Linked DNA regions of Homo sapiens: all the other regions are reported to be linked to region 2. The links are microRNA targets in miRTarBase. Many come from high-throughput screens and were not tested one by one. Region 2 holds a microRNA gene; each other region holds the end of a gene's coding sequence.
The links. Region 2 holds the annotated microRNA hsa-miR-3913-5p (UUUGGGACUGAUCUUGAUGUCU, at 5,548-5,569, opposite strand). A microRNA usually pairs through its seed, bases 2 to 8, with sites in the 3' UTR of a target mRNA and lowers its output. Matches are read on the target gene's strand: a 7mer-m8 pairs with bases 2 to 8, a 7mer-A1 pairs with bases 2 to 7 and ends in A, and an 8mer does both.

Region 1: the mRNA of ZSCAN29 is a reported target of hsa-miR-3913-5p. Seed matches in the 3' UTR shown: 7mer-A1 at 3,966-3,972 and 7mer-A1 at 4,253-4,259.
Region 3: the mRNA of SERAC1 is a reported target of hsa-miR-3913-5p. Seed matches in the 3' UTR shown: 7mer-A1 at 4,260-4,266.

Annotation. Positions count from the first base shown.
Region 1 is chr15:43,353,897-43,364,362 of GRCh38, reverse strand. ZSCAN29 (zinc finger and SCAN domain containing 29) reads left to right here. Exons shown (of 6, transcript NM_001372080.1): 5 at 1-448; 6 at 2,422-6,188. The coding sequence ends at 3,290. It overlaps MAPDA (N6-Methyl-AMP deaminase), which reads right to left. Exons shown (of 13, transcript NM_001324366.2): 13 at 9,794-10,466. Among named protein-coding and RNA genes, the nearest start is that of ZSCAN29, 12 kb to the left of the region's middle. RefSeq lists a silencer at 9,295-9,488.
Region 2 is chr12:69,578,887-69,590,312 of GRCh38, reverse strand. It overlaps MIR3913-2 (microRNA 3913-2), which reads right to left and starts at 5,590; the gene lies at 5,491-5,590. It overlaps CCT2 (chaperonin containing TCP1 subunit 2), which reads right to left and starts at 4,854. Exons shown (of 16, transcript NM_006431.3): 1 at 4,789-4,854; 2 at 3,969-4,043; 3 at 3,495-3,560; 4 at 2,697-2,808; 5 at 2,307-2,383; 6 at 2,051-2,163; 7 at 626-828. The coding sequence starts at 4,791. It overlaps MIR3913-1 (microRNA 3913-1), which reads left to right and starts at 5,490; the gene lies at 5,490-5,591. FRS2 (fibroblast growth factor receptor substrate 2) reads right to left here. Exons shown (of 9, transcript NM_001278356.2): 9 at 10,520-11,426. RefSeq lists an enhancer at 4,484-4,823.
Region 3 is chr6:158,102,987-158,114,412 of GRCh38, reverse strand. SERAC1 (serine active site containing 1) reads left to right here. Exons shown (of 17, transcript NM_032861.4): 16 at 821-964; 17 at 2,911-4,894. The coding sequence ends at 3,047. Among named protein-coding and RNA genes, the nearest start is that of SERAC1, 60 kb to the left of the region's middle.

The DNA.
Region 1 (10,466 bases), not on the chromosome of region 2:
GAGACCAAGACTTACCTTGCAATTCTTAGTGAGACCCAGTTTTATGAAGCCCTCCGGAACTGTCACCGCAACAGCCAGCTGTATGGAGCAGTGGCTGAGAGGTTATGGGAATATGGCTTTCTTAGGACCCCAGAACAGTGTCGGACCAAGTTTAAAAGCCTGCAAACCAGCTATCGGAAAGTTAAGAATGGCCAGGCACCAGAGACCTGTCCCTTCTTTGAAGAGATGGATGCTTTGGTGAGTGTCCGGGTTGCTGCCCCACCCAATGATGGCCAGGAAGAGACTGCTTCTTGCCCCGTCCAGGGGACCAGTGAGGCTGAAGCTCAGAAGCAAGCTGAGGAAGCAGACGAGGCCACAGAGGAAGATTCTGATGATGATGAAGAGGATACTGAGATACCCCCAGGGGCTGTCATAACCCGTGCTCCAGTGTTATTCCAAAGCCCCCGTGGTAAGATTATTTCACTATTATGGTATAAATAACAAAGGGAAGACAATGGGACTTAGGAAAAATATCATCTGATTGAGAACTGGCCTCTACACCCAGCTTTCATGGATTCTTCTTGTGACCACCCATATTTCTTGTCTATTAAAGCAGCTCACTGAGGGGATATAAATTATTTATGTGACTTGACTTCCCACACTAGAGCATCAATCTGAGATAGCTGCACATTGTAAATTTGCTGTGATTTATTCATGAACCACTAGGTTTCCAACCAGTTTACTAAGCAGGGAATCTGAAAGCTCACATTTCTCAAGTAGCATGTCACGTACCCACGGTAGGATGAAGTTGATTTTAAAAGTTCATTCTCTTTTATATGTCTTCTTCTAGTTTCAGCTCATATACCAGCTGTATGTCTGCTTTATTCACATTTATGAAAATCTGATAACTGTTGTTCACTTTTATGAATCTGAGGTTCCTGAGAGAACTGACCCTTTGAATCTTAGCTGCTAGATAAGAAAAAAATACTTCACAAGGGCTTCCATCCTTGTGAGAAGAGTTCTGATTTCAGAGTCATATATGTGTACGTATGTGAATCTGGGCTCTGTTGTTTATTAGTTAAGTGACTTAGAGAAGGTTACTTAAGGCTGGGCATGGTGGCACATGCCTGTAATCCCAGCATTTTGGGAGGCCGAGGCGGGCAGATCACCTGAGGTCGGGAGTTGGAAAGCAGCCTGACCAACACGGCGAAACCCCATCTCTATTAAAAATACAAAAAATTAGCCAGGGGTGGTAGCGCGCACCTGTAATCCCAGCTACTTGGGTGGCTGAGGCAGGAGAATCGCTTGAACCTGGGAGGCAGAGGTTGCAGTGAGCTGAGATCGTGCCATTGCACTCCTGCCTGGGCAACGAATGAAAAAAAAAAAAAAGTTACTTAACCCCCAAGTTTGCTTATATATTAAGACCTACCTCATAGGGTTGATGTAAATGAGGTACTGTGCACAGTGCCTGGCACATAGTAGCCATTTAATAATAGTTTTCATTTTCATAAGTCTTTAAGATCAGCATTTTTTAATGTTGTTCCCTGGAATATCAATTCCATGGGGTATTAATATATTCTACTAAAAAATAACTTATAGGTTTGGGAAGATGGTAAATACCCCTGTTGGAGGCTCACAATACATATTCACATATTTAAGGTTCTAAGATTTATTTAATCTAGTGAATATTTCATGAAATATCTCATAAGACTAGGCTTCTGGGTAGAAATACTGTCTCAGGAGGTACAAACATGGGCTGATACTCAACATGCTTTTACTCCTAGATTTAGTCTAGGGAATATGGGATTCAGAGTTTACCTGAAATAGCTGAATAAATGCAAATTTGCATAGCCTAGGCCCAAAAAAGCCAGGCATTTGGTTCTTAGGGCCTTTTGGTTCTTTGAAAGACACTACATATTTTTCTATCCTGTTTTTACTTGCAACGTATATTGGAATGTGAGGGGAAGGGGACTCATGAAGCTCCTCTGGATATAAAAGTTTCCAAAAATGTTTTCCTGAGCATGTCCTTCTAAACCTTTTAGTTACTGGTGAAGAACATGAATAAGAATACTATGACAGACCCGAGATGTGGCAAAAATACGTATTAGAAAGTGTCTTTCCTGTAGAAACATGGAAATTATTTTATCTAAAACCTGGTGATTTTCCATGCTGTACTGGGAGGATTTTCCAAAGATCCTAGATGACCAAGAGGAATTAAAAGTATATATTATTCAGACCCTATGTAGATGAGAAGCACATGATAGGTTAACAAGTAGAGAAGTAAAACATTGGGATTTTAATAAGATAATGGTAGTTATTTGGGATCTAGGGCTCCCTAAATTTTAATCATGTGGTGTAATGCTTGTTTTTCCCAAGTTTTACATTCCTGTGGCACATATGATTAAGAAAATAGATAACTTCTAAAATTCTGTTTTACATCAGGTTTTGAAGCTGGATTTGAGAATGAAGATAATTCAAAACGGGATATTTCTGAGGAAGTACAACTGCATAGGACATTACTTGCAAGATCTGAAAGGAAAATTCCCCGGTATCTTCATCAGGGTAAAGGCAATGAGAGTGACTGTAGATCAGGAAGACAGTGGGCAAAGACCTCAGGGGAGAAAAGAGGAAAACTGACACTCCCGGAGAAGAGCTTAAGTGAAGTCCTAAGTCAACAGAGACCTTGCTTGGGAGAGAGACCCTATAAATATCTCAAATACAGCAAAAGCTTTGGTCCAAACTCCCTTCTCATGCATCAGGTATCCCACCAGGTGGAAAATCCATATAAATGTGCTGATTGTGGGAAAAGCTTCAGTCGGAGTGCACGACTCATTAGACACCGGAGAATCCACACTGGAGAGAAACCTTATAAATGTCTTGACTGTGGAAAAAGTTTCCGTGACAGTTCAAATTTCATCACCCATAGGAGAATCCACACAGGAGAGAAACCTTATCAATGTGGTGAGTGTGGGAAATGCTTCAATCAGAGCTCAAGCCTTATCATTCACCAGAGAACCCACACAGGAGAAAAGCCCTATCAATGTGAAGAGTGTGGAAAAAGCTTCAATAACAGTTCTCATTTTAGTGCACATCGGAGGATACACACAGGAGAGAGACCCCATGTGTGTCCTGACTGTGGAAAGAGTTTCAGTAAGAGTTCTGACTTACGTGCACATCATAGAACCCACACAGGAGAGAAACCCTATGGGTGTCATGACTGTGGTAAGTGCTTCAGTAAAAGCTCTGCCCTTAATAAGCACGGAGAAATCCATGCACGGGAAAAGCTTCTGACACAGTCAGCTCCCAAGTAAGCCCCTGAGGATATATAACGGAAAGAGGCTCAATAAATGTATTGTTTAGAAAGTCTTCCAATAGTGAGATTCATCTACTATTCTGTGTCCAGTTAGCTTAGGAAATTCACTTTAGGATTTATGCCACTGTTTGTTCCTTGTTTTTCCTGATCTAGACTCAAATCCCCAAGGCAGTCTAAAGAATGAAAGGAAGATTTCAGTCCCTCTCTTTGCCTGCATCTGAATTGATGGATAACATCTTTTCCCTCTCAGTGCCTATGGTGTTCCCTTAATATAAGCACAGAGGACAAGGTAATAGATCCTATGAATTTGATAAGCATCCTTCTTTACTCATTCTGTCATTCAGCTGCATTTTGACAGGAAAAACCCATTACATTTCGAGAAGAAGTTATGAGACTTTGCCCATTAGGTGGGTCTAGCTCTTTTTTTTTTTTTTGGAGACGGAGTTTTGCTCTTGTTGCCCAGGCTGGAGTGCAATGGCACGATCTCAGCTCACTGCAACCTCTGCTTCCCGGGTTCAAGTGATTCTCCTGCCTCAGCCTCCCAAGTGGCTGGAATTACAAGCATGCGCCACCATGCCCAGCTAATTTTATATTTTTAGTAGAGATGGGGTTTCTCCATGTTGGGCAGGCTGGTCTCAAACTCCCGACCTCAGGTGATCTGCCTGCCTCGGCCTCCCAAAGTGCTGGGATTACAGGCATGAGCCACTGCGCCGGGCTTTTTTTTTTCGAGATGGAGTCTCACTCTGTCGTCCAGGCTGGAGTGCAGTGGCATGATCTCAGCTCACTGCAACCTCTGCCTTCTGGGTTCAAACAATTTTCCTGCCTCAGCCTCCTGAGTAGCTGGGATTACAGCCACCTGCCACCATACCAGGCTAAATTTTGCATTTTTAGTAGAGATGGGGTTTCACCATGTTGGCCAGGCTGGTTTTGAATTGACCTCATGATCTGCCTGCCTAGGTCTCCCAAAGTGCTGGGATTACAGGTGTGAGCCACTGCACCCGGCCCAGCTCTTCTTTATACAATAATGGAAATGCTAAAATGAATGACTCTTCCTGCTCACTTAAACCTGTGCTCAAAATGACATATTTGTCAGGCACCCTCTTCATTTACCTTAAAGAAGGAGAGTTTAATGTCCATCTTGGTTCTGCCCTATGAATCATCTTGTCAAGAACAGGTGTTCTTATGCAGAAACAATGAAAACCTTATACTGAAGTGTGAACCCTGGATTTCTTAGTTTCTTCTGAGTCCTAGAAGAAGGGTTGGAATAGAATAATACATTTACAGGATTTAGGTTGGTTTTCTTTCTGTCCAGTCTCATCTGAATTTCGTCTGTCTCTTGTGGTCCAGAAGTTCCACAGAGCAACGCAGCTGCATGTGGTGACAGGTAGAGCAGTTAAAGCTGCCAATAGGAACTCGTCCATATTCCACACACCTGGTATAGTGTTATGCCCTCCATGGGCACTTACCTGCAATAAGCAGAAGCCACTGCCACATTCCCGTGTATTGGGAAAATGGACTACTGTGTGCGAACAGGCCCTTTACCCTAATGGCAGGGAAGATGGATTATCTTTGGCCAGTGGAGCTGCCAATCTAGACATACACATTCAACTGAATACAATTAAAAGCAGTTCTTTAAATGCAAATATAATTACTCATCTTTATAATACAATAGTATTAACTGCCCATATGCTCATAGTATGATGAGCCCTGTATAGCACAAGGTCAACAGGTCCTCTCCTTGTCCTTACAATCTAAAGCAGATGACACTGACATGGACAAACAAGTGCACATGCATAGTTGCGGCAGTTTTAGAGAAATCTAGAAAGCTAGGTAGCAACACTATGCATAAATGTTGTGGTCCAATGCATTAGTTTGCTTTAACAAAAATCTGGGAGGTATTTTTTCTCTTTATTCAGGAAGGCTTCATGAAGCAGGAAGTGGTCAAAGGAGGGAAGGTTACTGGTTAAATTATGATAGGAAGAACTTTCCATAACTAGTTGCAAAATTGAGTGCTGGGTGGGTTGAGGAATGGGAAAAAGGGGGAGCAAGGTGTTTTGTGTAGATGGAACAAAGGGCAAAGGATAGACTGTAAGGAAGGCCAGATAAAGCTTGGAGTAGCATGAGAACTTGAGGAATAGTATGATATGGGCTGTGCAGCAGGCAGAGAGAATCACCTTAGCTGAAACATGGGTGTTAGGAGCAGACCATGAGGTGGTAGAACCATCATCTATAGTAAATCAGGTACTACGCTATAACTATTGATAAGGAAACAGCTGACTGCCACTGAAAGAATAAGCAGTTTTAGGGGACTAGCTCCTATGGGAGATAAAGGTCAGAAATCGTAGTATCTGATGAAGATATTTTGATGAGCAGGTGAGAAGAAAGATAAACATGGCCAGATGGCCAAGGACTGGGATAAGTAGCCGTTTCACATTCAATTAGAATTCTGTGGCTGGAATAAGATCAGGGAGAGCAGTAGGAAGATATAGTATTCTATAATTCATAGCTTGTTGTGTTAGAGATTAATTAGGATTCTGCTGTTGAATCTTAGTACAAAAAAATCTAATATTTATTAGGAATTAAGGGAAGATGGTACTTCTGTTATGTTGCCTAAGCAGACAGGAAGCTACAAGAAACACCAGTCTGAAGCAGTGCCTCAGGATCTCAGATGATTTAGGAAGTGTGCTGTAATGTCAAAAAAAAAAAAAAGTATTGTCTTTAGTATATCTATGTATAGTCTCGTGGGAAAAGCATTGGTTGTGGTATCAACAGATATTCTGGTTCCAGATGTCTTGTAAGTTAACCTGCCTCCATTTCCCTTTCTGTAAAGCAAAATAATGTTTACACCTAATCTGTCTCTCAGGGATACCATATTAATAAAAATCATGTCTATAAAGTGCCTGGTGTTTCTTGAAGTGTTTATGTGTGTGTGTGTATATATATACACAAATTACGATCAAGTTATGGAGGGCAGGAAAAGACCAATCTTTCTTTTTTTAACTCCTTGTGTGGGTTTACTAGAAGTATGCTTATCTGAATCTTTATATTCTAGAAAGAGGAATAAGTCAGATTGTGGTAAAAGGGAAATTAGAATGCAAATCCTTCCTTTGTACCTCTATCCATATCCACAATAAATTAGGACCCAAGATAACTGGGCATGCAGAGTCTTATTTTTTAAATTTTTATTTATTTTTTAGAGATAGGATCTCACTCTGTTGCCCAGGCTGGAGTGCAGTGGTGCCATCATAGGTCACTGCAGCTTCAAATTCCTGGGCTCAAGTGATCCCCAGCCTCCCCAATAGATGAGACTACAGGCATGAGCCACTATACTCAGCTAATTTTTTAAAGTTTTGTATTGATGAGGGGTCTACGTTGTCCAGGCTGGTCTTGAACTCCCAGCTTCAAGTGATCCTCCTGCCTCAGCCCCCCAAAGTGCTAGGATTACAGGCATGAGCCACAGTGACCAACTCAGCTGAGTCTTACTTTAAAAGACCCAAAACTGGCTGGGTACAGTGGCTTATGCCTGTAATCCCAGCACTTTGGGAGGCCGAGGCGGGTGGATCATGAGGTCAGGAGTTCGAGACCAGCCTGGCCAAGATGGTGAAACCTTATCTCTTCTAAAAAATACAAAAATTAGCCAGGCGCGGTGGCAGGCACCCGTAATCCCTGCTACTCGGGAGGCTGAGGCAGGAGAATCACTTGAACCCAGGAGGCGGAGTCTGCAGTGAGCCGAGATCATGCCACGGCACTCTAGCCTGGGCAACAGAGCAAGACTCCGTCTCAAAAAAAAAAAAAAAAAACAGACCCAGAACCAACCCTCCAAACTCCAGATGAAAAGAATGTGCAGTACATGCTGCCCAACCTGCCATTCCTCAGGATGGAAGCAGCAAAAAATACCTTCAAACATTCTGAGAAAGAAACCAAGCCCACTGTTGGGGGAGCAACAGCATCTCTGCACCTCTAACTTCTTAACATCTAAAGCCTTTGTGAGACAGATGGGGTGGCATGTGCAGCAAAGGAGGCAAAAAATGTGTATTAGCAGAAGCTGGATAATCCTGTTCACATCAGTTGTTTCCTTAGTGCCATTACTTTTCTTTTTCCCCATACTATCACTTTTCCTAAGTTTGTTCTCTATGGCCAATGCATAGAATGTAACATATGTTTTTGCCATTTCTCATTTATTGTAATCTGAGTGTAGACTCTGAGTCTTGTCAATGTAGTATAGCACTATTTTACACTACTTTTTTTTTTTTTTTTTTTGAGACGGAGTCTCGCTCTGTCACCCAGGCTGGAGTGCAGTGGCACGATCTCAGCTCACTGCAAGCTCCATTTCCCAGGTTCACGCCATTCTGCTGCCTCAGCCTCCCGAGTAGCTGGGACTACAGGCACCCGCCACCATGCCCGGCTACTTTTTTGTATTTTTAGTAGAGACGGGGTTTCACCGTGTTGGTGAGGATGGTCGCTATCTCCTGACCTCGTGATCCGCCTGCCTCGGCCTCCCAAAGTGCTGGGATTACAGGCGTGAGCCACCGGGTGGCGCCCAGCCTGTATAGCACTATTTTTACGGTGACCAGGTAAGAAAGGGAAGATGAGTTAAGATTGTAAAGATAGATCAGTTCTTTCCCCATTATTCAATTCAGAATCCAAAATGAAGACTTTACTCCTATACACTGAAATAGCTATGTAATGACATGCATGTCTCAAAATTTTGACATATAAAATGTTATGTAGAATTCTCTGAAACCATGGTGCTTTAAGTACCAGGTGTGTGTGTGTGTGTATTTTTTAAGAGCTTAAATTATTCCTTTCCTACCGCACCCAAGACGGTACTCTTTTAGAAACAAAACTTTGGAACAACTAGAAGTCAGGTTAAAGACTAGAAATAGAAGTCCAATGTACCTTAGAGCTCAAAAAGGCTCTGGAGAGCAGAACTTCGCTGCGGTCAAAATAAAAGAACATTAAAAAAAAAAAAAAACACATTGATTCCCAGGTGACTCAGTTCAACTTGTATAACCCAATAGATAAATCAGGGAAGTAATTTTAAAGTCTTCCATAATTAGTGAGCTCCTCAAATTATGTAAGTATAATTTAATATACAAATATTTTATTGACATCTTTCTTAAATATAGTACAGAAACCAAAGACACTCACATCATTCTACACAGTGAGGTCTATATTCCAATAACTCATGCTGTGAGTCACCGAGCACCTGAATATTTCTTAGGCCTCACATATCTCTGGATGCCCAAAGTTGGCATTTGAGAGTTGTTAACAGATAAATGCAGAAGCAACACTTACAGAGACTGGGCCAAATTCTAATGAACTTAGTGGTCTTGATGTGGAACTAGTGTAGGCAAAATGAAGCTGCATTCCAGGTCAGTCCCATAACACTTCACCTCTGGGTTCATTTGAGGTACAGATAAGACACAAGCTATATATGGTCTTAGCAACAGAGAGAGTGGAAATAGCAGCTATGTTGGTGACCAGGTAAGGTAAGCCTGGGATGGGGCTTTGAAGATGCAAATGGTACGCATGTACAGGGTTACCTGGTATTAACAGTAGGGGACAGGTGTATTTTCCAAAACGCTAGATCACTGAAGGAATCCAGGAAATAAGGTTTCAGAGGGTCTATTCCAATCTATATACACTGTATAAAGTTTTTTTAACTTTTAATCTTGATATAATTTCAAACTTACAGAAAAAGTTCCAAGAGTACAAGGAACTCCTGTATACCTGGATTCACCAACTATTTATATTTTGCCCATTTGCTTTTCATTCTCTATGTATGTGAATGTGTGTGTATATACACTTTTTTTTTTTTTTGAAACAGGGTCTCACTCTGTCGCCCAGACTGGAGTACAGTGGTCTGATCATGGCTCACTACAGCCTTGACTTCCTGGGCCCAAGCCATCCTCCTACCTCAGCTTGTTGAGTAGCTGGGAACACTGGCATGTGCCACCACACCTGGCTAGGATGTTTTTTTTTTGTAGCAATGGGGTCTCCCTATGTTCTCCAGTCTGTTTTGTTGTTTTTTTGAGACAGACTCACTCTGTTGCCCAGACTGGAGTGCAGTGGTACAATCTCAGCTCACTGCAGCCTCGAACTCCCAGGCTCAAGTGATCCTTCCACTTCAGTCTCCTGAATAGCTGGGACTACAGGCATGGGCCACCACGCTTAGTTTTTTAAAAAATATTTTTTTGCAGACGGGGTTTCCCTATGTTGCCCAGACTAGTCTGGAACTCCAGGATCCTCTTGCCTCAGCCTCCCAAAGTGCTAGGATTACAGGTGTGAGCCATGACACCTGGCCCATGTGTTTATTTTTTTTTAATTCAATATTTCACCATTAAATCTGATGTTAGCTGTAGTTTTTCATAAATGCTCTTTATCAGCCAATCCACATAAATTTTAGAACCTCAAACAAAAAAAACTTATGCCATCCCTACCCTCACTTAAGACTAGCATGACTTTTATAGTGTGAAAAGAATTTCATGATAAGGCTAATAAATTAAAATCATACACTTCAATAGCTTTTGTATAGATATTAAACAAAAAAAGGACTATAAAACTTTATAACCATATTTTCATTGAATATATTATCATGAACACTTTCAGTCATTAAAATCTGTTCTGCAACATTTTTAGTGACTGCAATAGATCCACATTTTATGAATAAACTTTGATGTTTTTACTGTGCAATTTCTGTATGAGTAGATAAGGGTAGAAAATAATATAATGCTATATATAATGCCACACAAAGCTACACACACGTATCTAAGAACTTCAAAAACCACAGAACTTCCCTCTCCCCTGTTCCTTAAAACAAAGTCTGAGCGGAAAAAACAAACTTTTTTCCTCTGCTCTCACACCACAATAAAGACAGAAAACTTCTCTGACCAAATGTGTGGAGTTTTTTCCCCACCATCAAGCAAGCAATCAATTTTGCAGCAGATACCAGCTAGGTGTCCTCCAGTTTCCCATGCTATCCCCTAGAGATGGCATTTGATCCCACAGATTGAGGGCCCAGTCCCACAAGACTGCTGCCCACTTCCAGTGCCAAGTTCAAACCCCAGGTGGTTTTACCTGTGCTTCTGACCAAACCTATAAATCAGGGTTCCCATGACCCCTCCTTGAGTTTAATTTGCTAGTAAAGCTCACAGAACTCAGGGAAACACTT
Region 2 (11,426 bases):
AGGGGACTGGTTCCAAGACGCCCACATACACCAAAATCCCCACATACTTAAGTTCCAGGCTGACTGGAACCAGCAGATTTGAAAAGCTGGCCCACTATATACATGGGTTTCAAATCCTGCAAATACTGCATTTTCCATCCACGTTCGGTTGCACATGTGCAAACCACGGACACAAAGGGCTGACTATATTTATTGAAAAAACCTGCATTGTGAACCTACATAATTCAAACCCATGTTGTTCAATGGTCAACTGTACATCCTCAACAACCAGCTAACACAATGATTTGACTGACCCAGACCCTTCCTGGAGAATACATATAATCCTGGTAAAAGTACCATTTGAGAATAGATGATTTCTAGTAAAAGAAAACATTTCCTCTTTATCAGAGACTGCAAATAACTTCATGGTAGTTAAGTAAACTCTAGAGATCATCAACAATGCTGGAATAGCGCGGGAAGAGGAGTACACTGTCAATAAAATGACAAAAATGGTTGCACATATGATATGTCCTTAAATTCAAGTTCACTGGCTTTGTAAAGGGTCACTGGTCTCAAAACAGAATTCACTCAGTATTCAGCCCTCAGCATCTAATCAAAGCTTCTTGTATCTGACATTCATACATACCTTCATCTAAATAGGAATCTGCCAAACTTCCTCCTAGCTTCTTGATAATATGAATTGCCTCCAGGTTGCCAGAGCCTTTCAGTCTGAGAACTGCTTCTACAGCTAACTTTGTAAAGTGGTCTTTGTGATGAGTAAGAAGTTTTGAGGATAATGTTGTGCCCGCAATATTCATTAAATCTTGACGGAATTTAACTTCATCGGAACTAAATAAAACCAACCAAATATACATATTAACCCTACTTTACTTTTCAAAATTTATCTAGATATTCATGTCAATAGATAATTTTACCCTAACTGATCAAGTCTGTAAGCTATATGAAAAGAATTAAACCTCAGCAGTAATCAAGAAACACAAATTAAAGATGTTATTTTCCCCACCAAACTGGCAAAATGCCAAAAAAAAAAGAGGGGTGGGGGCCACACAAGCATGCAAAAGTCTAATGTTGGCAAGAATGTGAGAAATGGCCGGGCACAGTGGCTCACGCCTGTAATCCTAGCACTTTGGGAGACTGAGGAGGATGGATCACTTGAGGTCAGTTCAAGACCAGCCTGAGCAACATGGTGAAACCCCATCTACACTAAAAATACAAAATTAGCTGGCTATGATGGCACATGCCTGTAGTCCCTGCTACTTGGGAGGCTGAGGCAAGAGAATCGCTTGAACCCGGGAGGCAGAGGTTGCAGTCAGCCGAAGTCGTGCCACTGCACTCCATTCTGGGCAACTCTAAGAGCGAGACTCCGTCTCAAAATAAATAAATAAATAAAAGGACGTGAAAAACAAGTATTATTATACAGTTGTGAATGGGCAAATAAATAGAAGTGCCTTAAAACAGTGGTCCCGGACCTTTTTGGCACCAGGGACTGGTTTCATGGGAAGACAATTTTTCCACCTGCTGCTCACCTGCTGTGCAGCCCAGGTTTGGGGGTGCCTTAAAACACACACACTTACCTTTGGACCCAACAATTACACTTCTAGAAACCTTTGGGCTATGTCGCAACGTCACAAAGTTATTTTATAATGCTAAAAATCATCAAATACACAAATCTCCCCCTACAGATAGGTTAATACAGTCATTCTAGCCAAATATTCAAATGTGTAACTCTATTAAAATACTGCACAGAAAATTGACATCCAAAAATGTGCTTAATATTTAACTAGGTTAAAAAGAGGCTAACAAATTCTCTATACAGTATTATACTATTTGCTTTATTTGTATATTTTGATGATATATACAAAAAGACTAAAAACCCAAACTTAACTTTAGTGGCTATCTCTGGAGGCTGATGTAGGTTTGACTGTTGGAGTGGGGTGAGGCAGCAAGATGATCTTTGTGTATGCTTTTCAGTGTCCTATAGATTTCTTGCATTAAGCATGTTATGAAAGAACACTAAATGTTTAGAACAGTAGTACTTTGCTATACAAACCCATGATCAACTGCAGAACTCAACAGCGCCTCTCTTGCAGCCTTCGTGGCTTCTCTCCAACCCGCTATGATGGTCTGTGGATGAATCTTTTTTGCAATTAAAGATTCTGCTTCCTATTAATAAAGTTATAAAACAAAAGTTATAAATAGAAAATTATTAAGCACTCCTCAATAGTAAAGACAGAGGAAGTAAGGACTAGATTACCTCTGATACTCAAAAACACAGTAGGAAAAAAGAGTTGCTTAGTTGCTCTTACCCTTAATAATTCTGCTGCTAAAACGGTAACAGAGGTAGTGCCATCACCAACTTCATCATCTTGAACCCTTGACATATCTAGAAAAAGAAATTAGTTATTAACTCAAAATTGCTTCTTTGCTTACTAAATTCTCCAAAAATATTCACTACCAATCTAAACTTACCAGGGTTCCTCATTCAACAAATTATTTGGAACTCTGAGGTCTGAAATGCAACAGTTTTACCACCAACATACGGGCACTCCTGAAGCTTGTATTTTAACAACGATAATTAACAACTAGTGGACATCAATTGACAGTACGATTGGTCAACACAGCCTATTTATAAAGTTATTTCAAAAATGTTAACAAACAGTATTATTAGGTTGGTGAAAAAGTATATTCAGACTTACCAACTAAAACTTTAGCTGCTGGATTGTCAACACCAATGTTTTTTAGAATAGTGGCACCATCATTGGTTACCATAAGAGAGGCATCTCGTCCACTGCTTAGAAGAATTTTGTCCTAAAGGGAACATAATTGGTTCAAGTTAAGACATAAGCACATCTTGAAGAATGCATGGATCAATCAGTATTCTCACACAGTGCTAGTGTATAAACACTCTGGATAGCTATTTTGTGGTATCCATTCATCAAATGTTTTCAATACATACACCACGTAACCAAACCATGTATCTACCCCTAGAAACACTAGAAGCACAGGTAGACACTAGTTTTTGTTTCAACACCGTAACTGCAAAAACAATGGAAAGAAACTATCAATACAGCCATAATTAAATTATAAAATAATTAAGGTACAGGATAATATTTGACAGTTAAAGGGGCAGTGTTATCTACTTACACTGAAAGGAATTTAAAAGAGCAAGCTACAAAAAAGTATTGATAAATAGTATCTGTTTTATAAAACAGTATGTTACATGAGTATAAAATACATAATGAAGTACACATACTTCTACATAAACAGAATATTAGAAGATGTACGTGCAAATGATAACAGTACTTGTCATTGGGGAGGGGCATGGGATTGGGGATGGTGATTCTGGGGACTCTGATTTTTACTAAGGAGAACATACTTGTCTTTTATAATTAAACGTTTTAAAGATTAAAAAGCATTTTAATACGCTTGTTATTATATTTCCACCAAGCGCTCTAAAACAATATTAAAATATAAAACTTTTCTATTTTTCTTACCATGCCTTTGGGTCCCAAGGTGCTCTTTACCAAGTCTCCAATGGCGATGGCACCAATAAAAGAAGTCTGGAGTAAAAACCAAGGAGATTATCAGAATCAACTTTACAGTCTTCAAGTACAGTTTTATCTTTATTTACTTTTTTTTTTTTTTGAGGCAGAGTGTCGCTCTGTCGCCCAGGCTGGAGTGCAATGGCGCGATCTCAGCTCACTGCAACCTCCGCCTCCTGGGTTCAAGCGATCCTCCTGCCTCAGCCTCCCGAGTAGCTGGGATTACAGGTGCCCATCACCACGCCCGGCTAATTTTTGTATTTCTAGTAGAAACGGGGTTTTACCATGTTGGCCAGGCTGGTCTCGAACTCCTGACCTCAGTTCATCCGCCTACCTCGGCCTCCCAAAGTACTGGGATTACAGGAGTAAGCCACCGCGCCTGGCCTCCAGTTTTATCTTTAAAACAATGCTTAGAACAAGGCTTACCAGACGAGCTGTCTCTGCTCTCTCTTCATCAGCTCCTGCCTTAAAGATGTTAACAGGTGCAAGGGAAAGGGACGCCTGAAAAGGAAAACCAAGAGGCATTCCGTTTAAGTACCAATACTCTAACACATACACTGAGGTGCCTTCCACTAGTCTTACAAGTGGACATCTAAGAGAAAACTCATTTACAACAATGTTTTCAATCAAATGAAGCTTCCATCATCGGAGAAAGCATTTAAGTGGGAGAGAGGGACTTGTAGGAGAGCGACATGGCTTTTCGGATTTACAAGGCCCCCGGGAGTATAAATTATACACCAGCGAGATTGACAGTTACGTACAGCGAGACTAAAGACGATCTTGAACTAAGAATGAGGCAGGGAGGGGTTGCAGGCCATCAAGGTGACGCCTGCCGGGCGGGCGAGGGAACGCGGCCTCCATCTTCCACCCTCGGAAGGCTGCGGCCCCTCCACCCTCTGATGGCTCAGACCCCGTCGCTCCAGGCTCCGCCCCTAGAAGGAGGGCGGAGCGGGTCCCACACTAGAAATTTCTTCGCTCCGGGTGAGGCGCGGACCTGGGCTGCCGGGACTATGCAAAGACCTAGGCACAAGGAGACGCTGGCTTTGCGGTCCACCCCTCCCCCTCGTGGTGAGCTCCACCGGCTGGCCTGGCGCAGGCCGCACGCCCCGCGCATGGCTCGCACCATGTGCGGAGGGCCGGGGAGACAGAAACGGAGCCTACGACCCTAGCAGGACAGAGGAAGCAGTGGGGTGGCAAGAGCACGGCGGAGCAGGGGTAGGGCAAGAGGCAGGGGAGTCAGGCTCACCATGGTTCCGAGGAGTTCCGCACACAAGTGAATCCCCTCACAGCTCGTGCTCGGGACCAGCGGACTGAAGGAAGCCGGAAGTGACGCCACACGCCCTACTTCGGGGGGCGGGGCCCCGGCCTGTCGTTACCGCCAGCAGGCGTCCCATTTTGATTGGAGCCCCACGGGCCGGAAACGCAGCCTTTCACACTGGAGGGGGCGTGGCCGCCGCTCCAGAACAAAGAGGCGGCTGCCGCGCGGGTTGCCATAGAAATGGAGTTCTTGCTCACACTTTTTATTTTCTTAAATTTAATCTTTAAACACTTCTATTAAAGTCACACATGTACACAGTTTAAAGTGTTATATACCAATAAGGAAAAACATAATTTATCTGCCTCACCACTTCCTGTCTCCAGGAAAACTGCTTTCAACTTTTTCAGTTTTTTGGAGGGGCTATTTACTATCATATTCCCAGATAATATTATTGCTATGTTAATTTTAAACATTATTTACTGAGTATTACAGAAGAAGACTTCCTTTTCTCTTACTGAATTTTCAGACGTTATTTCTAACTGGACGTTGACTGCCCAGGATAAGGTCTTGTGAACTGAGAGAGACATTTATAGTATTTTATCTTTGCCCTATTTACTCATTTTCAGGAATTTTTGCATTTCGGTCTTTTTTTTTTTTTTCCTCCAATAGTAGAGACGACTTATTAGTCTTTGTTTATAATAAACTGAAATATTTGGGACTGATCTTGATGTCTGCCAAAACCTTGGCAGACATCAAGATCAGTCCCAAATATTTCAGTTTATTATAGACAGTTTTCTACTTTCTCTAAGTTGACGGATGTCTAAAAATTTGTTCTCTAAAAAATTTTTCTGTCATCTACTGATACCCTCTTTTCTCCCTTTGACTAACTGATCGCTTAAGCTCCTCGGCAGGGCGCGGTGGCTCACCCCTGTAATCCCAGCACTTTGGGAGGCCGAGGTGGGCGGATCACCTGAGGTCAGGAGTTGGAGACCAGCCTGGCCAACATGGTGAAACCCTGTCTCTACTGAAAATACAAAAATTAGCCGGGCGTGGTGTGCATGCCCGTAATCCCAGCTACTCAGGAGGCTGAGGCAGGATAATTGCTTGAACCCGGGAGGCAGAGGTTTCAGTGAGCCGAGATCACGCCGCTGCACTCCAGCCTGGGCAACAGAGCGAGACTCTGTCTCAAAACAAAAACAAAACAAAACAAGCTCCTGGATTTTTCTTTTTCTGTTTTGTTTTTTTTAGAGATGGGGTCTTCTATGTTGCCCAGGCTGGCCTGGAACTCCTGGGCTCAAGCAATCTTCCTGCCTTGGTCTCCTGAGTAGCTGGGGTCTCCTGGATTTTTGACATTGCTAACATTAACAGGAATTTTCAATTTTTTAGTTGTTTCTACCCTTCAGATTTCCTCTAAGTGGGTTGATTTCCACCAGGGGTTGGCAAGCTGTGAGGAGTCAAACCCAGCCTGCCAGTTGTTTTTTGTATGGCCTGAGAGCTAAGAATAGTTTTTACATTTTTAAGTGGTTGAAAGAAATCAAAAATTTCCTGACACATGAAAATCCTGTGAAATTAATATTTCAGTGTCCATAAAGCTTCATTGGAATCCATGGGCATACCCATACATATTTACTCTGTCACAATACGATAGCAGAGTTATGTGGCAGAGTTGAGTAGTCATGACAGGTTGAATGGGCCCACAAAACCTAAAACATGTATTATCTAATTCTTTACAGAAAAAGTTTGCTGACCCTGGTTTACAGTATTCCTCAGGTCCAACATGAAAAGGGGAGTTCAGGCTGGACAAATTGTTATTTTAAATCTCCCAAGAGTTTTCTCTTCTTTGTAGGAAAATTTGGTCTTCTTTCAGGAAATGTACTTTCCTAGGCAGATCCCAAATCGCATTCTGGAATGAGAAGATTCACAATAAAAAACTAAGATGCCTGCACAATATTGAAAAAGGTTGTTTTTATTGTGGGCAAAATTACATACCTGGAGATATTTATTATGTCCTCTGGTAGGCAAGCCTGAGACTGTGTGTGATGGGGAAACCAATGACTGCTCCCTGCTGGGCTTTGAATGTAGCCAGAGGCATTTGGATGGGGAGAAGGAGGCAGGCCCTGCCACCTTGTGGAACTGAGGCTAGAGGCAGCCAGGAAGAGACTCTATGATGGGACCCTTGGAAATGTGTCCTTTCTCCATTGCATCTTTTGACCCTTCCTTCTTTCCTACTTCCCCCTCCTTTGATGACACCTCTACACCTAGAGGCTAAACACTCAGCTTCTAGACCCAGACTATATGAGTTTGAATTTCAACCATTTTACGTACTAGCTTTGTAGTCTTGGGTGGGTTTCACAGGCTCTTTAAATCAGTTCATTGAAGGCCATTCAGAGCGTGATCAATGTGCTGGTTTACCAAAAACTGTCTCTTTTAGCTGTTTATACTTTTTTGTTGTTGTTGTTGTTGTTGAAACAGAGTTTCACTCTGTCGCTCGGGCTGGAGTGCAGTGGTATGATCTCAACTCACTGCAACCTCCGCCTCCCGGGTTCAAGCAATTCTCCTGCCTCAGCCTCCCAAATAGCTGGGACTACAGGCATGCACCACCACAGCTGGCTAATTTTTGTATTTTTAGTAGAGACAGGGTTTAACCATGTTGGCCAGGGTGGTCTCGAACTTCTGACCTCAAGCAATCTGCCCACCTCAGTCTCCCAAAGTGCTGGGATTACAGGCATGAGCCACCACACCTATATATATATTTTTTAATTGAGACAGGGTCTTACTCTGTCACCCAGGCAGGAGTGCAGTGGTGTGATCTCCACTCACTGCAACCTCTGCCTCCTGACTTCAAGCGATCCTCCGACCTGTCTCCCGAGTAGCTGGAAATACAGGCATGCGCCACCACACCAGCTAATTTTTTGTATTTTTGGTGGAGACGGGATTTTGCCATGTTTCTCAGGCTGGTCTTGAACTCCTGAATTCATGCGATCTGCCCACCTTGGCCTCCCAAAGTGCTGGAATTACAGGCAGAAGCCACTGTGCCCATCTATTTATACATTTTATCGTAATTTGTATTAGATAGGTTACAGGGCCTATGGAGATAGTGAGACCTTGGGAATCCATGTTTCTGTGATTAAACACGTTGTGTGACTTTCTCCTGGCTCATCTTCTGTCCTCTACTCTCAAGTCCCTTGGTCTTGGCTTCTCTTAGTTAACCCTTCCTCCTCCCTCAAAGTCTTTGTGACCCTCTCCTCTCTATGACCCTGTGTCCTCCTCTCTCTTCCCCTTGGTATAATTTGGCTTTCAGTGAATTGGCTTTTTGTTAACTGGTCAGCTTCCAGTTATATAATCTCTCTGTGCCTCAATTTCCCTTTGTGTAAAATGGAGATAATTATCACAGATTAAATAGCTTAGAACAGTGCCTGTTTAGCTTAGCTATTGTTATCATTATATCCCAAGTCTTCTAATAGGCTTTATAAATATAGTAGCCGAGGTTGGATATGCTTGGCATGTTATGGAAGTAGGAAAGCACTGTAGCATATCATTATTTGATGGCTAGAGGTGATTTGGGAGCAAGGGTAGATTCATTAACTGGAGTGAAATAACTGGCGAAGTGGCAAACAACCACCAGAACAGAGTTATGGGACTTGTCAACATTCCTCAGGAACAGTTAGAATACCTGGGGAAGGAAACCAAATAAAGGACCAGGAGTCCACAGTCACATTAAGTTGGGTCCACCCAGACACCTACTGTTTGGGTAGTAGGGAGAAGGTTAGAAGACTTGATATTTCTCCTGTTGCAGACCGTGATAGTTTGTACACAGGAATCAGTCTGTGGAGCACACTTAGAGGAGCACTTTAAAAAAAAAAAAAACAGGGTCTCATTATGTTGCCCAGGCTGGACCACAGTGGCAGGATCACAGTTCATTGCAGCCTCAACCTCCCAGGCTTAATCTATCCTCCTGCCTCAGTCTCTTGAGTAGCTGGGACTACAAGCACACACCACCACGCCAGTTGATTTTTGTATTTTTTCATAGAAACAGGTTTTCACCATGTTGCCCAGGCTGGTCTCAAACTTCTGGGCTGAAGTGATCCACCCTCCACAGCCTCCCAAAGTGCTGGGATTACGGGCATGAGCCACCATGCCCAGCCCCCAAATATATCTTAAATCTCAATGAACTGACACCATCAACCATCTCAGTCACCCAAACCAGATAACTGGGGGTCATCCTTGACCCCTCCATTTCTGTCATTCCCCTTATCAATCAGAGGTGTTAATTCTTCCTCCTTTAGGCCCTCTATTACATTGGTGGCCCTGAATAAACTACACTTTTGATGTTCATGCTTTTATATGAGCCACTGTAATTCAACAAAATACAACAGAATTGACATTGTGCCAGTTCTGGGCTTAGGCCTCAAGAAAGCCTAGCAGCATCTACTTTTGTGCTCTTGGGAACCCTAAGCTGCCATGTAAGAAGACCACATGAAGAAAGACCCAAGACTTCATGGAAGAAAACTAAGGAACACAGCTGAGAGCTTTAAGTTCCAGACATAACCTAGTGGAACTGGTCCAGCCAGCCCTCAGCTGCTTGAATCATACTAGCATAGGCACAAAGCATATGAGGAAGCCAGGCCTCCAGACATCATGTGAGATGAGCCATCTCTGCTGTGCCCTGCCCATCTCGATCTATAGCAACTTGAGACATTAAATGATTGCTGCTTTAAGCCACTAACTTTTAGGGTGGTTTGTTGCACAGCAGTAAACAATCTAAACAGTCCTTTAACAATGCCTTTGAATACGGATTTATCAGATCTGGCTCCATTTCTGAAAAAGCCTCTCAACCAGTCTCCCTGCTTTATTAAAATACCGTAGGGCCAGCTACTTGGGAGGCAGAGCCAGGAGAATGGCATGAACCTGGGAGGGGGAGCTTGCAGTGAGCCGAGATGGCGCCACTGCACTCCATCCAGCCTGGGCAACAGGGAGAGACTCCGTCTCAAAAAAAAAAAAAAAAAAAAAAAAAAAAATACTGCGCCCTTCACGTATCCATGTTGTCAGAGAAATCTTTCTAAACTATTATTTTTCTGGTGTTTAAAATCCTTCAAGTTCTCTCACCTAATTTAAACAAAAGCTCCTTAGGATTCTGTGATCTGTTTCTCATTTCTCCTTTCTTCTGTATCCCCCAACCCTGCCTTTGCTCTCCATGCGCTTAGTCATTTGGAACCTCTTGCAACCACTGAATGTCATGATCTTTCTATACCTCTGTGCCTTTGCACATGCTATCCCTTCTCCCTAAGACATCCTCTCTAAGCTACAAAGACTTTCAACAAACCACCTCAGGGATCACCCCCTCTAAGAAGCTTTGCTTGAAAACCTCCACCCCTAGGCTGAGTTGGATGCCCTTCCTTTGTGTGTGTCTTTATCATGCCAGTTACATCAATCACTTGTGGACATGTCCATCTCCTTCATTGTTTAAATAATTTCCATCTTGACCTGTACTCAACTAAGGCTTTGCAATGTCACTCAGTGGCTAAAAACAGGTTTGAAGTCCCAGAGCTGAGAACTACTATTTGGAATGATCACACAGCTAAAACTGTGAGAAAGCCTGTCATATAGTTACAATTTCATTTTGATATCTTCATTTTGAAAATGGAGGCAGTGATATGAGACTAGGAAAGAAAATGTCACAAAGTTTCAAGTAGTATGTGAAATATAAATACAATAAAACTTTTAAGTAGATATCCGACCAAACGTTTTATTGGGGTTTTATTGCAATCTACTTTCAGCAATAAGGGGAAAGTGAGCATGAAAAGAACTCCAATCAGACTTTATTCAATAAAGCAGCTTTTCATGAATGCTTCAGGTCAGTGTATGATCAGCTCAGCTTCCAGTATCAACTTGAGTACCTCATTATGGATATTTATGCTAGAATGACAACAGTAAGGCATTGCAAAATCCAAAGTCATCTAATATTAAACCATATTTTACATAATTTGTAGGACAGTATACTAATACTCTACAATAAATAAGGATTTAAAAATGTGTTGCTTAGCCCTTGAACTAAATTCAATTACTAGCTTATTCTAAGTACTCCAGTTAATAAACGTTTGATTGTAAAGAACTCTGACTTCTCCAAAGATAAAAAAAATTAGTTGTCATGACAAAAATTAAGCTTAAAAAGCACATTCACACTTGTCCTTAAAAGCAAGTTTACATCATATATGAGAAAACTTTTCATGCCTGATGACATGGCTTATATGGCAAAAAACAGTCATATGCAAAGGACAACTAGAGGGCAATCGTCCCATCCCCACTTCCTCCAAAAAGCCACACTCGGCCTCAGTGTAAAAGTTATATTTTATTGCCATGCTACAAAATGTATGAAGTTGGCACTGATAGGGAGAAATAGAGAACAAAGGGTGGGAAGGGATAGAGGGAAAATTATGTTGTTACATATACAACAAGGTTTTATTTTAATTAACAGTGGTTACGTTTTGCCAATATTAAAAATGCAAACCAAAATTTAAAATGCTGATCTGAAACAGCATTAAGATACAATGTATGCATAGTACAGTATCACTTATGTCTTTTTATTAGAGAAATATGGAATGTTTATAAAAGAAATTAACCATGGG
Region 3 (11,426 bases), not on the chromosome of region 2:
TTAAAGTACTCTGGTTTGATAAGCAGTTTTCTCTCTGGAACACCTGTTAATCGGAATTTGGATTCCCTGGCTCGAGCCTAAATATACCAGGTGTCTTTTTGCTCCTATTTTCTCTTTGTTCTACTTTATGGAGAATCTCTTGATTTCTTCTAAACCTTCTGTTGGACTTTCCTTTCGTGGAGTCAGATTGTGTTTTCCGTACGTGCCTTCTTTCCTGTGCCCTGGTGGTTCTGCACTCATGTCCTCTTCTTGTTTTGTGGCTCCTTTATCTTTTCAAATAATTCTAAAGATCCTAAGTAGAAGGTTTGTGAGTTCCCTTCTACTCCTCATCTAGCTGTTTTTTTTCTGTGGCCAGCTTTTCTGTTTGCTTATCTGATCCATCTCTTTTAGGTCATAGGCCTATCTGGTGCCTCTTGGTTGCTCTTTCATATGTGAGGGTGAGGGATGGGAAGGGACAGGCATTCTGTGATTGTAGACAGGCTTTGTTGGTGGGAGGCTGGGCTTTGGGGTGGGTGTTGTGGTGCCATCATCACACTGGAGGACCCCTGTGGTCCCACACACCAGACTGCCCTGGGAACTGCTTCCTGCCCCCAGTAATGTGATAAACCCTCTCCTGCTGCTGACTGTCCTGTCGATTCTTGGTTTTAGCTTTTTCCTTGAATCTTAGTGGCTTCTTGGCAGGGGAGAAAATAAACATGTGTACTCAAGCCACCGTCTTGAATCAGAATTCTAATTTCCTCTCTAAATTTGAAAGATTAATGCATTTTATTATGAATTGGGTAAACAACTTGTCACAGTCTTGTTCTGTATAATTTTACAGATTCTCCTGCACTTAAAACACTACAAGATGACTTTCTGGAGTTTGCTAAAGACAAAAACTTCCAGGTGCTGAATTTTGTGGAAACACTACCAACCTACATTGGCAGCATGATTAAGCTCCATGTGGTACCTGTGGAATCAGCAGGTATTCACTCTTTTGAAACTTGTTGGCTGTTAGATGCTTAATTATACCTAGCATTTACTTGTAAACAGCAATTTTTATATCCAGGTTCTCAGTTTTAAGAGATAGTTTATGAAGGTCTAGATTTGATTTCTTTTATTCTTTTCAGCAATAGATTAAAATTTCTCTGTAAACATATAACCCGGGTATTACCTCTCCCTGCCCTTTATGTAACTGATTAGATGAGAAGGGTTAATTGGCTAACTCTAAGTTAGGCATCAACAGTGAACTCTTTTGCAGTAAAGAAAGCTCTTCTATCAGCTAGATCAAAAGGGGCATTTATTTAATAGACTTAGACTTATATTTACATGCAGAACCCTTAAGAAAATCATCTAAAAGTGTGGAAGCTTTCGTAAATAGAAGATCCATGGGGAATAGTAAAGCTCCAGAAATATTCCAGTGGGAAAAACTAGTGTTGAACTACAATCTCTTCATGATCCTGGGGTTGAGGGAAATGGCCAGTGCTTGCTCTCTAGTGTCATATAATGTATTATAGATTCTTTGAGGGAGGAGCCCAGATCTTAATTAACTCTCTTCATAGACTCCTCTGTTACTCTGTACATACTAGATACCCTGTACATTTCACCACCTGAACTGCTTTTGCCTCACCTGGCCATGTCTTCAGCTTGCCTGTTATCTCTGGGAACCCCTTTCTTACTGCCTCTGAGGCTGGCTTAGGTGCTGTTCTGGTGGTAGCCAGCCACATTGTGGGTCCTTCAGGCTAGGGACAGCATGCATCTGGAGTGCTTGCCAGATGGTTCTTTTGTCTACATAATGAGTTTTGTCCTAATTTCATTATATGCTATCTACATAAAATGAAAAATGTCATACTGTGTAGTAGAACTGAAAAATTTTACCTTAAAGTAATATGCTGTAGGTTGAGGAGTTACTATTTAGTAGTTGAAGAACTTGAAGAGTTCCAAAGAACAGCTGCCAGATGTTTTTAAAAAGGACTTTGGAAGCTTGAAGCAACAGCATAGTTTTTTGTTTTTGTTTTTAAGAGACAGGGTCTCACTTTGTCATCCAGGCTGGAGTTCAGTGGTATAATCATAGCTCATTGCAGCCTCGAACTCCTGGGCTCAAGCGTTCCTCCCACTTCAGCCTCCTGAGTAGCTGGGACCACAGGCGCACACCACCACACCTGTCTAAATTTTTAAATTTTTTGTATAAATGGGGTCTTGCTGTGTTGCCCAGGCTGGTCTCAAATTCCTGGCCTCAAGCAGTCCTCCTGCGTTGGCCTCCCAAAGTGCTGGGATTACTGGTGTGAGCCACTGTGCCTCGCCCAAAAGCAAAGTTAATATCATGGACCAGCTGCTTGGAGTGGCATAGCCTTGCCCTAATTCTGTCACCAAGAGGCTTTTCTTCCTTCATAACCACCACCTGCATTCCTCACCTAGGTGGCCTCACTAGTACCTCTTATCACTTCCGTGCGAGGGGACTTTGTTAGACCGAAATATCTCAAGCACTAAATCATTTTTACCCTGAAAGTGATTATTGGGATTTAGGTATAGAATGGATCCCATGTGAGACATTCCCATTCATTTCACCAGGAGAAAGGAAGTTTATAATAGAAACTCTGAAGTAACTTAGCAATAACCTGCAGGTGTAAGAAGGTTTTGAATATGTTAGTGCTCAATCTCTGCTTGCTCTGAAATAAGGAAGTAGGCCAGAACACATACGAAAAGTTCATGGAAAGCATAAAACTATGGTTCTACTGACTGAGAATCCCTTCCTGCATGTTTCATCAAATGTAGTTTAGCTGCAATCAAACTTCAGGTTCCTTTATCTTTTAAGAGTCCCTTGTCACAACCAAAGCAATGTCTAGAACTACCCATTCGGCCTCTTTCAGTATTGTCAAGGGGAAAGCTTATATTTTTACTTAGGTTTATTGACTTTTTTATTTTCTTCAGATTTAGGCATTGGAGATCTAATTCCTGTGGATGTTAACCATTTGAACATTTGTAAGCCAAAGAAAAAGGATGCTTTTTTGTACCAGCGTACTTTACAATTCATTCGTGAAGCTTTAGCCAAAGACCTTGAAAACTAACAGTTGTGCTCTTCCAGTTTTCATATGTGAATTCAGTGCAAGAAACTTGGTGTTCTGTTTCTTCTTTTAAGCTCTATGCAATCATGCAAACATAGTGATCATAGCGTCAACATGGTCTGGAGTGTGTTGCAGACTACAGAACATTGTTCTCCCTTCAAGCGCTGTAAAGCACCAACCCGGAAGTGGCAGGCACAGAAGGAAGGGCTGGATTGGGCCCCTTTGGTGTAAAGAAGTCCCTGTGTGCTGCTTTATGGTTCGCAGTGTTGGGCTTGGTGACTGGAGCAAAGCTGCTGTGAGAGAGTGTCCTTTCCCATCTGTGACTTTCCTGGTGCATCCAGGAGGGGCACGGCAGGTTCTGAGGTAACTCAACTTACCATAAAAATGCCATTAAGAGAGTACCTAAAATGGAGAGAAGAATGAACTAGAACATTCAAGACTCTTTTACTTCTGGGTATTGATTTGCTGTACATTTTTAAAGTTTGAGTTTTTAGCTCAGTTCTACCTTTTATCTGACACATTATTACTAGTGTTAACTTTGTTAGACTTATTGTCATGTCTGGGTCAGTTCCTTGTATCTATTTTCGTATTCCTGAGAACAAATCTTTTTCTTAGAAAAATTCTAGCTTATAATAATTCTTTTCAGACTGTAGCTGCCTATGCTTGGAATTTGTCCTAGATAAGGATAAAGTAGCTAATCCATTATTGATCACAGTATGAAGTAAAACTATTCTAAGCCATTATATGAATTAGCAATTCTTAGTATCAAGATTCTCAGATTCTCTTTGGCTAAATAAACCTTTCTTCTTCCTTGCTCATTTGCAAGTGGTATTAATTGACCTCTATAGCATGTGAGTAGTAGATAATCATGTCGATGACCTTTTTTTCTTTAGAGTAACAGCATTATTGAGATATAATTTACATACCATAAGATTCACCCTTTTAAATTATACAATTCATTTTTGTTTTGTTTTGTTTGTTTAGAGACAGGGTCTGACTCTGTTGCCCAAGCTGGAGTGCAGTGGCATGATCATAGCTCATTGTAACCTCAAACTCCTGGGCTCAAGAGATCCTTTTGCTTCAGCCTCCCAAGCAGCTAGGACTACAGGCACATGCCACCACACTTGGGTAATTAAAAAATAAATAAATACTTTTTTGTAGAGACAGGGTCTCACTGTGTTGCCCAGGTCTCAAACTCCCGATCTCAAGCCACCCTCCCAAAATGCTGTGATTATAGGCCAGAGCCATTGTTCCCAGGCTCAATTCATTGGTTTTTAGTATAGTTCACTGAGTTGTGCAACATCATTGCTATTTAATTTCAGGCTATTTCATCATCCCCAAAAGAACCCCATACCCATGAGCAGTCAGTTCCCACCTCTGCTTTCCCAAGCCTGCGGTAAACACTAATCTGTTTTCTGTCTCTATGGATTTGGGAATTTTATGTAAATGGAATCATACAATATGTGGCCCTCTCTGCCTTCTTCCTTCTATTAGCATGTTTTCAAGGTTCATTCATGATATAGCATGTATCAGTACTACTTCATTTCTTTTTATGGCCGAAATTACTCCATTGTATGATATGCCATGTTTCTTTATCCATTCATCAGCTGATGGACATCTAGGTTCTGTTCATTTTTGTCTATGATAAATAATGCTACCATGATCATTTGTGTACAAATTTATGTGTGGATAGATGTTTTTGATTCTCTTGGGTGGAATTGCTGGTCAAATGGTAAGTCTATGTTTAAATTTTGAAGATGGTGAACTTTTGTAGAATGAGATAGTCGAAGCTAAAACTGGAGTATGGCATCTGAAGGTAAATGGCTCATCAATAAACTCGATATCAACAATTAATTGTTTCATTGTACAACAACCTAGCAAAACCCACTTATTTATTGCTGTAGTAGACATAGCAAATATGACAGTTGCTAACAACGAATGTACTACCCAATGTGATAACATGGGGAGAAGGGGTAGATATGTTTAGTACATTTTTTCTCTTTTTTTTTTTTTTTGTTTTTGAGATAGAGTCTCGCTCTGTCACCAGGCTGGAGTGCAGTGGCACGATCTCGGCTCACTGCAACCTCCACCTCCCCAGGTTCAAGCGATTCTCCTGCCTCAGCCTCCTGAGTAGCTGGGAATACAGCCACGCGCCACCATGCCCAGCTAATTTTTGTATTTTTAGTAGAAACGGGGTTTCACCATGTTGGCCAGGACGGTCTCGATCTCTGGACCTTGTGATCTGCCCGCCTCGGCCTCCCATAGTGCTGGGATTACAGGCGTGAGCCACCACACCTGGCCCTGTTTAGTAAATTTTCTTGTTCTGCTTTCTGTGAACCATGGCAGATAAACCACAGTTGAAACAACTGTTCATTAATTCAGAGTATGGAATGGAAACCCTGTTTCTTAAATTTTTAATAGAATACAGCCGTGCTTTAAAAATAAGATGTGGAAGAGATATCCAATGTATTCTTAACTAAATTAGAATAGTCTGGATAAAATTTATTATACACAAGCAAGATTAAAAGAAATGGTATAGCACATAAGCAACACAGTAAAGCAAAATAAACAAGTACAGATGGTCCCCAGCTTAACGATGGTTCAACTCACAATTTTTTGAGTTCACAATGGGTTTATCAGATTGTTAAATGCATTTTTGACTTACAATGGGTTTATGCGGTTGCAGCCCCATCGTAAATCAAGGAGCATCTGTATAAAATGATGGCTGAAGGTGCAATTCTAAAAGAAAATATAATCCCTGAACAACAAAAAAGTGATGAAGGAAAAGGTGGAAAGCACTTGAAAATCAAATCAGCACAATTACAGAAGTAGAAACAGCACATTAAAGAATAGAAATGGGGCTGGGTGTGGTGGCTCACGCCTGTAATCCCAGCACTTTGGGAGGCGAAGGTGGGTGGATCACAAGGTCAGGAGATCGAGACCATCCTGACCAACGTGTTGAAACTCCGTCTCTACTAAAATACAAAAAAAAAAAAAAAAAAAAAAATTAGGTGTGGTGGCACGCACCTGTAATCCCAGCTACTCAGGAGGCTGAGGCAGGGGAATTGCTTGACTCCAGGAGGCGGAGGTTGCAGTGAGCTGAGATCTCGCCACTGCACTCCAGCCTGGGCGACAGAGCAAGACTTCGTCTCAAAAAAAAAAAAAGAAATGGATGAAAATTCTATCAATAGAGAGGTGGCTGGATGGATATGGAACCACAATAGATGCAGAAGCAAAATAAAATAATTAGAAGATAATAGATAAGCTGTTCAATTGTAAAGGCAATAGACAGACAGGCATTGTCAACATCACCTCAAGGAATAGGGACCTATGTGCCTTTCCTGACAAATTTGCTTGTTAATTCAATCCAGACATTTAAAAAAAAGGGAATAAAAATAGCACACTTTAAAATGCAAACAAAAACCCTAAAAACAAAAACACTTATGTTAGAAAACAATAATGTTGGAGAGAAAGAATTGTGTGCTCAGCTAAGTTGCCCTTGAAATGGGTACAAAGGTAATGGACCAGCATGCTCAAGCCTGCAAGAATTGGGGAATACTGTGCAGTTCTAGTTTTACCTTCTTAGCCTAAGGTAAGTTTATTAGATAATGACATATAGTATGCCATCATACTATATGTCATTAATATTAAACATAATTTACAAACCATATGACATATAGCATACTATCTAAATATTAAACATTAAAAATATATGTATTCTAGAATATATATTTAATAACCTATATTTAATAAACATGTTTTATATATTCTAGAAATCTATGTGTATATGTATAGTAAAATGCCAGACACTATAATACACATAGAAAGATTTCTAAAGTAATGTTTATGATTACTTCTGGGTAGATTTTGGGTTAACTTTTCATATTTTAATGCTTAATTTTATGAGTATTTGTTACTTTTTTCTTTTCTTTTCTTTTTTTTTTTTTTTTTTTGAGACAGAGTCTCACTCTTGCCCAAGCTGGAGTGCAATGGCGCGATCTCGGCTTGCTGCAACCTCCGCCTCCTGGGTACAAGCGATTCTCCTGCTTCAGCCTCCCAAGTAGCTGGGATTAAAGGCACCTACCACCCACACCCGGCTAATTTTTGTATTTTTAGTAGAGATGGGAGTTTCACTGTGTTGGCCAGGCTGGTCTCAAATTCCTGACCTCAAGTGATCCACCCACCTCCGTTTCCAAAAGTGCTGGGATTACAGGCGTGAGCCACTGCACCCAGCTGAGTATTTGTTACTTTGATACACAATTTATTTTAAAAAGAAAGCTCTGTAAAAGTCAAAATCCAAATCATAGCCACTGTGCTCACTGGTCAAGTTATTGCAACATAAGATGGAATATTAGTGAAAAAGGAATCTTAAAAAATAATAACAGGCTTCTGCTTTCAGTAATAGCAGGATAGATCATTTGGATCTAATCTCCCAGTGAGGACAATTAAAGAATCTAGACGAAATGTTTTTAATTGATCAAAGAGCTACAAAGAAAATAATAATGATTTATTGGCAAAAATAAATTATTATTATTATTATGAGACAGAGTCTTGCTCTGTCGCCCAGGCTGGAGTGTGCAATCTCGGCTCACTGCAACCTCCGTCTTCCGGGTTCAAGCAATTCTCCTGCCTCAGCCTCCCAAGTAGCTGGGATGACAGGCATGTGTTACCATGCCCAGCTGATTTTTGTATTTTTAGTAGAGGCAGGTTTTCACCATATTGGTCAGGCTGGTCTCGAACTCCTGACCTCAGGTGATCCCACCACATCGGCCTCCCAAAGTGCTGGGATTATAGGCGTGAGCCACCATACCTGGCCCACTATTTTATCTATAGAAATAGCATCCAGGAGGCCGGGCGTGGTGGCTCATTCCACAGACTGAAGAAGTTAATCCAAAGCAGAGCATATAAAAATAAATCTGCATCTATACAGAGAATAGGGACACTGCAGAAAAGCCAAGACAAGAGGAAGATCTTAAAAGTAGTTAGAGAAAAATGTGTAAAGAACAACAGTTAAAATTGCTGCTGTTGAGAAGTCCTAAGTCAATGGAAGCCAGAAGACACTGGAATGATATTGTCAATGTGCTAAAAGAAAACCACTTGCAATCTAGAATTATACATCCAGTACAAATCATAAACACTTAAAATATTAAGATGAAATGGACATTTTATATAAAGAAAAAGAGTTTACTGCCAGCAGACCTTCATTAATGGAAGGCAGAAGGCAAGTGATCCAGCCAGAGGCACTGGAATTCAAGAAAGAATGTGGAGTGAAAAAAGAGGTAACTACTAGGATAAATTAAATAAAAATTTTATAAAACATAATATATCAAGTGGGTGTTAAAATATGTAAAATTAAAATACACAGCAACTATAGCATATAAGTTGGGGGTGGGTAAATGGAGTTAAGTGCTCCAAGGTTGTTGTGTTATTTAGGAGGAAGGTAAAACAATGATTATCACTAGACTTTGAGAATTTAATGATACGTATTTTGTTTCTAAGATAACCAATAATAGACAAAAAATAGTGTATATAATGAATTCCAAACTAGGAGAGAAGAAAAAGGGGAATAAAAAAAAAAAATCTTAAGGCACAAACAGAGGGGAAAAGAAATAAGGAACAGATGGTACTAAGAGAAAGCACAAAATGGCATGGCAAGTGAAAACCCAAATATAGTAATAATTGCATTAAATGTAAATGAGCTAAATGCCCCAGTTAAAAGATAGTGTGTCAGACTGGATAAGAAATAACACCCTACTATATGTGTTTATAAGAGACCCACCTGACACAATCAAGTGAAAAAAGAGGCACAAGTTGCCAATGTTAGGAAGGAAGAGGAAATATCACTACAATGCACACATTACAAGATAAGAGGATATTAATAGATACTTTCAGGCCAATACTACTCAATTTTTAATAGAAAACTCCAAGGAAAATACAGCTTACCCAAGTTGCCTATGAAATAGAAAACTTTTATAGTCCTATTCCTATAAAAGGAATAGAATAAGTGGTTTTAAAATCTCACAAACTATAGGCCCAAGTGAATTCAATGTACTGTTCCTTACTGGTCAGGAAGGACTAGCCATATTTATGACTTCGAGATTATCAGTATATTCTTACTGCTGAAAATCATCAGAGAACATTTATGACCTATATTTCATGTATTAAAATTAGCTTAGAACAAACCTAGACAGAACTTGACTGGTGAGTGCTACCGAAAGTTTAAGGAGGAAATAGTTCCAATGTTATCAAGTTTTCCCAGTTAATAGAAAAAGAGTGTAGTCCCCAGCTCATTTTATGAGGTTAACAAAACTCTGATACCAAAACCATTCAAGGACAGTATAAAAAAGGGACAGTTACAAGCCGTTCTCATGGATGTAGCTGCAAAAATCCCAAGCAAAAATATTGACAAATTAAAGCCAGCAATATTTAAGGGGGTAAAATAATCTCCCCAAGTTGGAGTTACGCAATGAATGAATGCAAGGTTTGCTTAGCACTGAAAAATTGATCAATGTAATTCCCCAAATTAAACAAAAGGAAAAATCATAATCATTGCAATACACACAAAATATCTGATAAAATTCAACCACTATTCATGCAAAAGATAAACTTAGCAAGCCAGGAAGAGAATTTTGTCAATAAAGGATATTAAAAGAAAAAAACAACAACAGTAAACATCATACTTAGTGGTAAAAATATTAACATCTTCCCTCTGAGAACAGGAATAACACAAGAATGCCTACCAGCAGCATTTTAAACATCGTCCTAAATGTCCTAGCCAACTCTGTAAGGCAAGAAAAAGACACAAAGATACAAGGATGAGAAAGGAATAAACAAAATTCATTGTTTGCTAATATGATTATTTACATAGAAAATCCAAAAAAACCACAGATACCATGTTTTATCAATTCCAAGACACATTTCACAATATTTGAACATCTCTGTAATTGGGCTGCATCTCACAATAGCTACTGAGTCTTAGTTGGAAGCCGTCTTAAGAATGATGGTACATAAATGGTGTGTCTGATAATTGATGGTATACTAGGTGTATCAAAATACAGTAAATTGTTAGAATTTTGAGAGTTTGGCAAGGTTGCTGATGCATTCAATATAAAAAGTCTGTAAGTATACTAGTAAAAAATAGCAAATGAATTTTAAAATAAGTATTGTCTGTTAGATATAATAATGACATTAAGGTTATGAAAGAAAATGTTGGAGATACACGTTGAAAGTACCGAGGAATCAAGTATGATAGCAGAATTGCTTTGAAATATTTCAGCAAAGGAAAAATATATAAAGCAAATATAGCAAAGGGTTATTACTGTTAAATCCCAGGTGACAGATATGCGAGGGTCCAGGCTATTCCCTCTGATTTAATGTATGTCTGAAACTTTTTACAAGTTAAAAACTAAGAAACATCAAGGAAAACCTTAAATGAAGAGATGTGATGGGTTCTTGGACTGAAGACTCAATACCGTAAAGCTGTCTATTCTATTCCATGCAATCCCAAAAATTGCAACAGGTTTTTAAAAAATGAAACTTCAATTGATTTTAAAATTGATCTAAAAATACAAAGACTCAAAAATAGCCAAGATACTCTTAAAGAAAAAGAATATGGTGAGAGTGCTTATCAGATAACAAAGTTAAATGAAATAAGGCAACGTTGTATTGGCACACGGATAGACAAGCAGGCCAATGCTACAGAACACGGAGAGCCCAGAAGGTCTACATTCTGGAACAGCTGTATGAGCTGCTCAGGGAAACCTCTCCCACAGAAAGACATCTATTAAACTGGTCAAAATTAGCAAAAGCCATCATTCAATGTCTCTAGAGATTGACCAAAAGGCTGACAACAAATCGTGAAACATTTATTCAGCAAGATCTAAGGAATCTTGGTAGGAGCAAGGCGAAGGCATCACTTTGGAACTAGAACTAGAGCCTTCACCATCCCCCACAGATCTGCCTTGCACAAAGACCTGTTCCAGCAGGTAGAGTGTAATTGACAGCAAATCAATTTCTCTCTCTCTCTCTCTCACACACACACACACAATTTTGTACCCTATGACTAAAAAAAAAAAATTATATTGATGAAACCACTTTGCAAATCAATCCTCCACATGGCCACATCGAACGTTAACACATTTTTAAAAGTAGATGGTTTTCTAGGTCATAGTCTCAGGTCACAGGCCAATAAAATTAGGGCTAAGTAATTTAAAATGCCAAAAAAAAAAAAAACAAAAAACCCAAAATCAAAAATAAAAACAAAAAACCCTTAACTATTTGGAAATTATACAGTCTCCTAAATAACCAATGGATCAAAGAGAACGCAACGACAAATTACAATCTAGCAATTAATGACAAGGAGGAAATTTCATTCCAAAATGT